Linked DNA regions of Homo sapiens: region 1 is linked to region 2. The links come from fine-mapping of genetic effects on gene expression. A gene starts in region 2. The other region holds a variant in brackets. All regions are shown on one strand. Distances are from middle to middle.

Evidence for each region. PIP is the estimated chance that this variant, and not a neighbour inherited with it, causes the effect. A credible set is the group of variants that fine-mapping cannot tell apart.
Region 1: its variant is the best candidate, but not a certain one, in a credible set for the expression of ZNF536 in thyroid (GTEx, PIP 0.61).

Annotation. Positions count from the first base shown.
Region 1 is chr19:30,217,483-30,221,881 of GRCh38, reverse strand. No RefSeq gene overlaps it. Among named protein-coding and RNA genes, the nearest start is that of ZNF536, 150 kb to the left of the region's middle. The variant A/T (reference allele first, on the strand shown) is at 2,234.
Region 2 is chr19:30,370,478-30,374,876 of GRCh38, reverse strand. It overlaps ZNF536 (zinc finger protein 536), which reads right to left and starts at 2,493. Exons shown (of 5, transcript NM_014717.3): 1 at 2,321-2,493. RefSeq lists an enhancer at 948-1,449.

The DNA of each region.
Region 1 (4,399 bases), 150 kb after region 2:
AGCGCTGCACCAGGCTGGAGCCCATCAGCTCCTTATAAGAAGCGTTCAATCACTCAAAGTGCCTACTTTGAAAGTGATACTGATCACACCAATAGGTTTGTTCTGACCTCTGTCATTCGCGCCTCAAACATGGCAGTGATTCATAAAATGTTATCAAACCATTACTTTGGAGTTGCACTCCTGGTCACAACACTACTCATTTTGTTTGTTTGTTTGTATATTGCTATTCTTTTCCCTTCACTCTCTTCTGCTCCTTATAATCCTGCCTCCTTCATAGTACACCAGGTCTTCTTATAATATTGTTTCCTTCAACATTGTTTCCTTATAATGTAATGAGAAAAAAACATGGATTCCAGCCAGGGCCACTATCTGTGCGGACTGTGTACGTTCTTCCCAGGTCTGCGTGGGTTGTCTCTGGGTACTCACGTTTCCTCCCATGCCCCAAAGACATGCACGGTAGGTGAATAGCCATGTCTGCATGGTGCCAACCCGAGGGAGTGTAGGTATATGTATGAGTGTTCCCTGCAATGAGATGGCATCCTGTCCAGGGCTGGTTCCTGCCCTGCACCCTGAGTTGCTAAGACAGGCTCCAGCCCCTTGAGATGGTGAACTGGAATCATCAGGCTGGAACATGAAACAATGAATGAATATAAATTATTGTCAAATAAAATACATAAAATATATGATAATCATACTAATGTATGCCAAGAAACAGTACAGTACAAAAGTGCTCATAGTTGTGCACTTTCGACTGCACATATTTTGAGTCCACCATATTTGTGATTTTTTGTTTTTCAACTTGGTGGTGGTGAGAGGTACTCCTTACAATTTTCACTTTGCAAACATGTATTCTTTGACTTAACCCATTACTACTATGACCACCCTCACTAATTGATCAAAAACTGGGGTAAGTAATGATCTTACTTGTTTTATTAATGGCTCTTAAATGTATGTATAGCTCATATTTATTTCAATGTTTAGACATGTAGAAGCGCGGTGAAGCTTTGTGACCAGAGACATGCTGTAGGAACTTAACTCTTGTTTGTATCAATCAATCTATGGTAAAACTAGTTTCATTATACATCACTTGCTTAAAGTCAGTTTCCAAGAATCCATCAACAATATTAAGTGAGGACTTGCTGTATAGACAGATTTAAAAGCAGCAGGGAGGGTACCCAAGAGGGCTACATTGGCTCCAGGATGGAAGGGTGGACCAGGACACTTCTGAATCAAGAGGCCAAGTTCCCTCTCCTCTGGAACCTCAGTTTTTCCATCTATATAAAGATGACCTCCAACATCTGTAATACCCCTTTGATCACTCACAGTCAGTGGTTTTAGCACAATGATACCCCTAATCCCCAGGTTATGACTCCCTTCTTCAAGCAGAAGAAAGACGCTAGGTCTGCAAAGGGCCCATGTGTTAGGTGGGGAGTTGGTCTGCATGGCCACAGGGTCCCAGGTGGCCTCCCATGGAGAACCCTGCTTTTCCATCTCAGGGGAGTAGGCGACCATCCTTTACTGGGAGGAAGGCTACCTGGCTTCAGCAAGGAGTTGTCCTGCACTAGGAAAAAGGGTTTTCTATGCTGCAGGGGTCATTTGTCTCTCCACCAAGGCCAAGGTGCAGCCTTTTCTGTCATGAGCAATGCAGTATGAATGACCCTTCAAAGACTCCCTGAGAGCATGATTCAGAAGGGTGCCCTTAGAGGTGGAGGTGATTCCTGAATAAGAAGAAATTGGGGAAGCATCTGATCTGTTTGGCTATTCTGCCATGACCTGTTGGTCCCAGACCCAGGGTGCTGCTGCCCCACAAGCTCAAGAAAAGGTTGTACACCTCTTCCGGTTTTTCCAACAGAGGGAAGAAGTCAGCATAGTGATTCGTGTTGTCCTGGCGGAACATGTCCCTTCCTCCAGCAACAGCTTCACCTTCCCTTCCTGCCTTGCGGGCATCTGGGTGGGGGTCCTGCCCCGGATCCCAGGCAATCAGTGCATCACATCTCTCTGGATTCTGTCATTCAGTAATAGGCATATGGCCTAAGTTGGTCCAATCAGAGTGAATCTTGGACTTTTTTTTTTTTTTTTTTTTTTTGCTAGGTGCTAGTGGAGAGGTTAAACTGCTGGAGAACTGTAGTTTCCATCCCAGCACCAAAAGAACAGAGTCCAGAGTTTTCAGGGGCCACCAAGAGGAGCCAGAGAAGGGTGCCAACACAGTCCGTGGCAGGATGGAGATAGAGAA[A/T]TGGTGCTGCTTGCCTTGTATGAGCCCTGAATCCAGCCACATTTGAAGCCAGCTCCACCCCAGCACCTTTCTGTTTTGTAAGTGGATAAACTTCCTTTAACTTAATTCAGTTTACTTTGGGTTTTCTGCTATTTGCCACAGAATGAGATCTGATAATAGTTAGCACCTGACAAGAACAAAGAACACCTGGGCCAGGGACCAGAGCGCTCAAAAACAAGGCTGGAACAAGGGGCAGAAAAGCAAAGCATGGTCCCTGGTGTTCTTTCCAGTGAATGGGCAAAGAACTTACCAGAATTCTCTTAAAGCTACAGGTGCACCTTGCTTTGCATTAATAGCTCTGTGCCAGAAGAGATGCTTATAAAGTAAATTTTTGTAAATTGAACCTGATTGCACTGGAAGAGCTGGTTATTTAAGGCATCTCAACAGACAATGTCATTTGTAAAATGAATGGGCGTGTCCTAAAATAACAAATTAACAGTAATTTATTTATAATCCTAATTTTCCTACATCAGGCTTTATTGTAAAGCAGGACCAATGTGGATGTCTTCTTGGTGTCTTTGTATGAGTTAGTCAAATGCAAAAAAAAATGTGCTGAGCGGCTGGGCGCGGTGTCTCACGCCTGTAATCCTAGCACTTTGGAAGGCCGAGGCGGGCAGATCATGAGATCAGGAGTTTGAGACCAGCCTGACCAACATGGTGAAACCCCATCTCTACGAAAAATACAAAAATTAGCCAGGCATAGTGGTGTGTGCCTGTAATTCCAACTACTCAGGAGGCCGAGGCAGGAGAATCGCTTGAACCCCAGAGGTGGATGTTGCAGTGAGCCAAGATTGTACCACTGCACTTCAGCCTGAGTGACAAAGTGAGACTCTGTCTCAACAACAACAACAAAAAATGTGCTGAGGTCTATTGAGTATAATTACAACCTCACACACCCACTCCTTTGCAAGGCTGTGGAACAGAAATGTCCTGAATAGATCCTGGACCATCAACTCTGGGCCCTGCAGTTGTCTTCAACAGCTATCATCGGTTTTGAATTAGGTTTGGGGGAAATGTTATGAAGCTAGCGGACTTTCTGACCAGAATGTGGCCTGTGCTTTGTTTTCCTGAAGAGGAGAAATCAATGAAATAGCCCATAGTAAGTTCTAAATTTGGGGGGCTGTTGAGACTACAATTCAGTTGTACTGAATTGTAACTGAAACAAAATATCAGGTTATGAGACGAAACTGATGGTGGGGATCCCAGAACTTATTTTCTTAAGATGTTGATTTCTCTGGTACTCCCTTTCCCATGCTGTAAATGTGCGCATCATGCAGCACATGGCTGTGACCTGGCCCCTTGCTTTTCCAAAGTCCCAATTTTCAGCCCTGGTTTTACCTGGGGAAGAAGTGCAAATTTTGCTTGCCACTACAAATGAAAGGGAGCAAATATTTATAAAATATAGTTTTTTGGAAAAGGTTACAGTTACCCTTTGGCTCATAGATGTGACCTGGTCTGTATGGATTGAACAGAATCACCAGTAACAATCCCCGGGACTTACACGGGTAAATACGGAGCTTTATCGCCTTGTAGGAAGCATTTCTCTACCAGGTAGCAACTTGAAAACAAATGAAAATGAAAAAGTCAGGCAAAAAGCAAGTCCCTGACCCTGGCCAGTGCCTGAGAGCCCTGTGTCACAGCCCGCTTCCATGGAGAGCTGGCCATGGGCCTGTACAGGGAACAGACTGGAGCTCAGGGTGGGTGGTGGGCCAGGAGCCAGGGAAGGACCATCACTATAGAGGCTTTGTTTTAAATCCTGATTCCACCAAAGGGCTTAGTCGAGTCTGGTGGATTTGGGGGAAAGAGAAAGGGAAGCCTCGGAGCAAAGAGATATGTGCTGAAGGTCAAATGCATGTTGATGGTGCCAGGCTCCAAGAGAGGAGTAAAATGCAATTGGATGGTGCGGTGTAGGGGAAATGGGAGGGGCGGCCCCAAGGGCTGAGCTTGTATCCCTGGAGAGTCTCTGGCAGGCTGAATCTGCACTTGCACCCAAGGTTCCTGAGTGCTGTAGATCCCATGGGCCCTACAAAATCCCCCAGGGGGTCCTTGCAACCTGTACTTGGGATGATCAGCTAGCAGATGGAGACTTGGGGTCTGGCCCCTAAAGGTATAGGAGGGTAAGTATGA
Region 2 (4,399 bases):
CCAGCCCGGGCGGGGGGCCAGTCTCCGCTCCCCCGGCCGGACCCGCGGGGGCTCGCAATCCGCCCGGGCGCCGGCTGGGGGTGGCCTCGCAGCTCCCCCGGCCTCCCTCCAGGATGAAACTCGCCCTCTCTGGAGGAGAGAGGGCAGAGACGGTCCGAGAAGTTGCAGGAGGGAAAGAAAAAAAAACAACACTCAGTTTGTTGTGTTTTCCTTGGGTTTGTTTTCTTGCCAAAAAATTACCCCCTTTGTCTTTGCGCAAAAGAGGCAATCCGGGCACCTTCTGGTGGGCACCGAGGCGGTGCCAAGGCGCCTTTCTTCAGGGCGGTTTCTATTCCTTTTCTAGCCTCACCAGATATATTTTTAACATTAAAAAAAAACACTATATTTAATTGGTTATGGATCTCTGTTCTCTTAGCACTACTGGATATCACAGAAAAACACATTAGTACAGAGCAATTAGTGCAATGGCAGTAAACAACTAAGGCACTATTAAGCTGTGGGTGATTAAATAGTATTACTTTATATTTTTTACGGTGCTAGACTAAAAGATGGAGATTTAAGATATATATATTTCCATTAATATTAATATAAAATATAAATAACAGGTGTCTTCCACTTCTTCTTAAGGTGCAATTTATACCCAGCACTTCAACCTATAGAGAACTACTTTTCTTATTGAAAAAAAAACTCTTTCTTTATACACTCCAGGGCAATATTTCTTATCTTCATGCACCCGGATATTTAAGCAGAAATATTATTTAATTGGAGTTACGGACTCAGGCGAAATAATGCCCATACCTATATCACCATTAAAAAATAATAATAATAAAGCTTCCATCCCATTGAAATACGCTCTATCGTTTCTATCTTTGCAAAGAGCGAATCGGGCATTATGTGGTGAATTGACTGCAGGCCCGGAAAACAGGCGGGCGGCGGGTGGGCTGCGGCCCTGGGGCTGGGGCCGGGCCGCGTGCACCTTGCTGAGGCCCACCTTGGCCCCGGCTCCCACTGCAGCTCAGGCCGCTCCTCCTCCGTGTGTGTAGATCATCCTGGAATTCTGGCACATCTTTCCTCGGCATCTGATTAAGTTAACAATGTGCTGCTATTTGCATGCAGATTTGCCGGGGCTTTCTCTCCAGCTGCTCCCAGAGACTTGGTCTTTCTCTGCGTTGTGATAGCACAGCAGTCCCTAAATGCAATCTTTGTCAGACCCAGGTGTGCTCTCATTGAGGACGCCTTCGTTCCAAGCAATTTTTCTTTCTGTAGCATTTATAAGGCTCTATTATAGTATAGCCACATCTGGAGGAAAATTCTCCTATTAATTATATACTTTTACCACTAGGAAGACACATTCTAAAAGATACCAACATTTTTGTTGTTGTTGTTCTTATTTCTTTGACAGGCTGCATTTTATTTTATTTTGTTTTGTTTTTCCAGGCATTTCAATATTTAAAGAGCCATTAACCAAGGGGTGGGGGGTGTGAATTTCTAGGAAAAAAAAAAGAACAACAGAACTAAAATCTCAGTGTCAGCCCTGCCTTACCTCACAGGGACAAGTCAGGGGAAAGGTGCCAACTGAGAACTCTCAGAAGACCTCCAGGCTGGACAAGGGATTCAGGATGAGGGCCTGGCCAGTGGGGAAGAGTTCCGTTCTACTGGAGTTTAAAAAAAGGTCGGGGGGAAGAAAAGCACAAGTGCTATTAACTTTTAACCTAGTCTTCTCCCAGGTGGACATTCAAGCATGTCACCAAATCGCCAGACAATTTGATTTCTCTAACGTCAAAAAGCAGAACCCAATTGGATCAGCATGGTGATCCCGATGCGGAGTTTTCTTTGTGTGGTATGGTAATTTTTCAATTAGGTTGGAGACAGATTAAAAGCAAAATTTGGAGCTCAGAATTCATGCTCATCTTTCAGAAAGAGACAAGAATCTTTGCCCAGGGAGTCTGAAAGTTACTTTAGAAGCAGGTGGGTTGTTTTGTTTGGTTGGTTGGTGTTTTTGCTTTGTTTTCAAATCTTTTGGTACAGTCAGATTAGATGGGGGGGGCGGGTGATGGAGAGAATTAATGTAGGAATTATAGGAAAAGTTTTAACCATCGGATGGTCCCTTTCTAAATTATAATAAATTTAAAGGGCTATAATTTTTTATTCAAAAATTATTTTGCAAAAGGGTGTGTACTTCGTGAACAAGAATCCATGCATGAGTATGTGCGTGTCTGCATGTGGGTGGGTGCATGTGTGGGTGTTCTATGCTGGGGAGACTGCACGCACACACACTTGCACACACTCACACACTCACACACAAAGAAAGCTGAATTACCTTGAGAACAGGGAAAATGGAAATGGAACCATTTTCACTTTTCAAGACAAACTTCATCAGGTAAAAATCCAAGCAAGGTTTTGGTCACTTGAGTCCAGATCCTATGATGACAACGTGGAAACTCTCTTCTCCAGACTCACCTCCCCTGTTCCAAAGCTGGCCTCAGCAAAATCCCAGGGCCGTGTCCCGGCAGTACCAGGGGCGGCTCCCAGCAGGCCACGTGTGAGCAGCAAAATCACACAAGAGAGGCCTTTCTGAGTCCTGCCTCTGAAGGCTGGAGTCACTGCTCCCAGCTACTAACTGCCTCTGCTCACTGGTGCTAACCCCTTTCCCTCAAAATGACCAATTGTTTTCACTCTCTCTGTACAGAGGCCAGAAAGGCCCTGCAATTAGGGCCCATCTTTGGACCATGCCTCAGCCTCAGTTTTGTCAGCTCTGAAATGGGAAGAGCCAATCCCATCCTAAGTACATGCATGAAAGACTGTCAACCCAGTTCTAAATAGAAATGATAAATAAGGGTAAATTTTACTCTGATTCTTTTTTCTTAGGTCTCATTTCCTCCAAGCCTTGGTGCTGAAATTAACTGCCCTTCTTTTACCTTACGAAAACAAGCAGCGGATTCTAGTTTCATGACACTTAAGGAAGAATCTATGCAAAAAGGTGGCAGATATTAAATGCATAGATTCTTCAATGTATATATATTCTCTCTTTATATATATACACACACACATATATATGCATATATATATATATATTCTCTATATATGCATTTAAACATATAATGCAAAAAGAAATAATTTATTTTCTAATTTGACTCTTTTGGGGCCGCTGCCTTTTCCATCTCCTGCTGGCTGGCAATGCCCCCTCCTTTCCCCTACAGATATCCAGATACCCTCCTGCAAAAATACAGCAGGGAGGCAGATGCAGTGATACTAGATTACATCACTGGATAGCATGTGGCATTGAGGGGAGAGAAAAAAAAAACAAAAAAAAAAAAACAAGAAAAGACAAATGACATTTTGCTGCTATGGTGTGCTATTTTAGTGGTGATGGCTTGACTTTTGGCCCAAACGCATATGCCAATGGCAAGGCTAACTCCAGGGACTCACAAAAAAGAATGTGTGTTCACAGCTGTACTGTACACCAATACAGATTACATGTTTTCAGTGTTGCGGCCACAACAGAATGCTAATTAACATACTGGAGTGATGAGAGCGGCTGCAAAGGCCTTATTGTTCCATTATTTCATGAAGCCCAGCTGCCTTTGTTTATGTCACTTATCCTCTCGTGCCACAGGTTTTTACTCCAAAAATACTATCCCAATACAGCGTTAATATTTAAAAAACAAAGAGGTGGCAGATTGTCATTTTTGTGTCAGTCTCAAACTGCAGAACTGTTAAGCTGTTCTGGTTCGGTATTTAGAAATAATTTAACAGCCATATTCAGACACTGCCTGCATTCTAACATAATGGCTGAATACTTGAACCAAGCAAATGCATAACTATCCTGACATCACTTATGAGATTTAGATTGGTCAGTTAATGGAAGTCTTTACCACAATCAATACCATAACAGCTTCTTGAAATGAACGTGATTTTTTACACGGAGTGCTGCAAACAATAACTACAGAAACATACTACCTTTGTACCCAGCACAAAGAAGCTAAAATGCAAAATTAAGAAGCAATTACGTTTTTGCAAACTAATATTACAGTTGATTATTAAAAACAAACACTTCCAAAAATACGTACTTATCATTTAATAATTGGAGGGCATTAATATCCCCCGTACCTGATTAATCATTTTTTTACACTTTTTAATAGCTGTTTCACCTACTGGCTACATTATCAGCTTGCTGTTAAGTATTGATATTGATGATTGATGTAATAATGATTAAATAAAAAGCCATATTTAGAGCTTGATTTTTATAACATTCTTTGTCATAATCTTCATTCAAGAGAACACTGTCTGCTGTTTAAATTAGTTTTTTTCCCCTCTGTTTTGCCTGGATTGTGCATAAAAGTGACATTCTATAAAATACAGGTTTCCTCAAATAGTGTTCCGCCAGCAATCCATACAT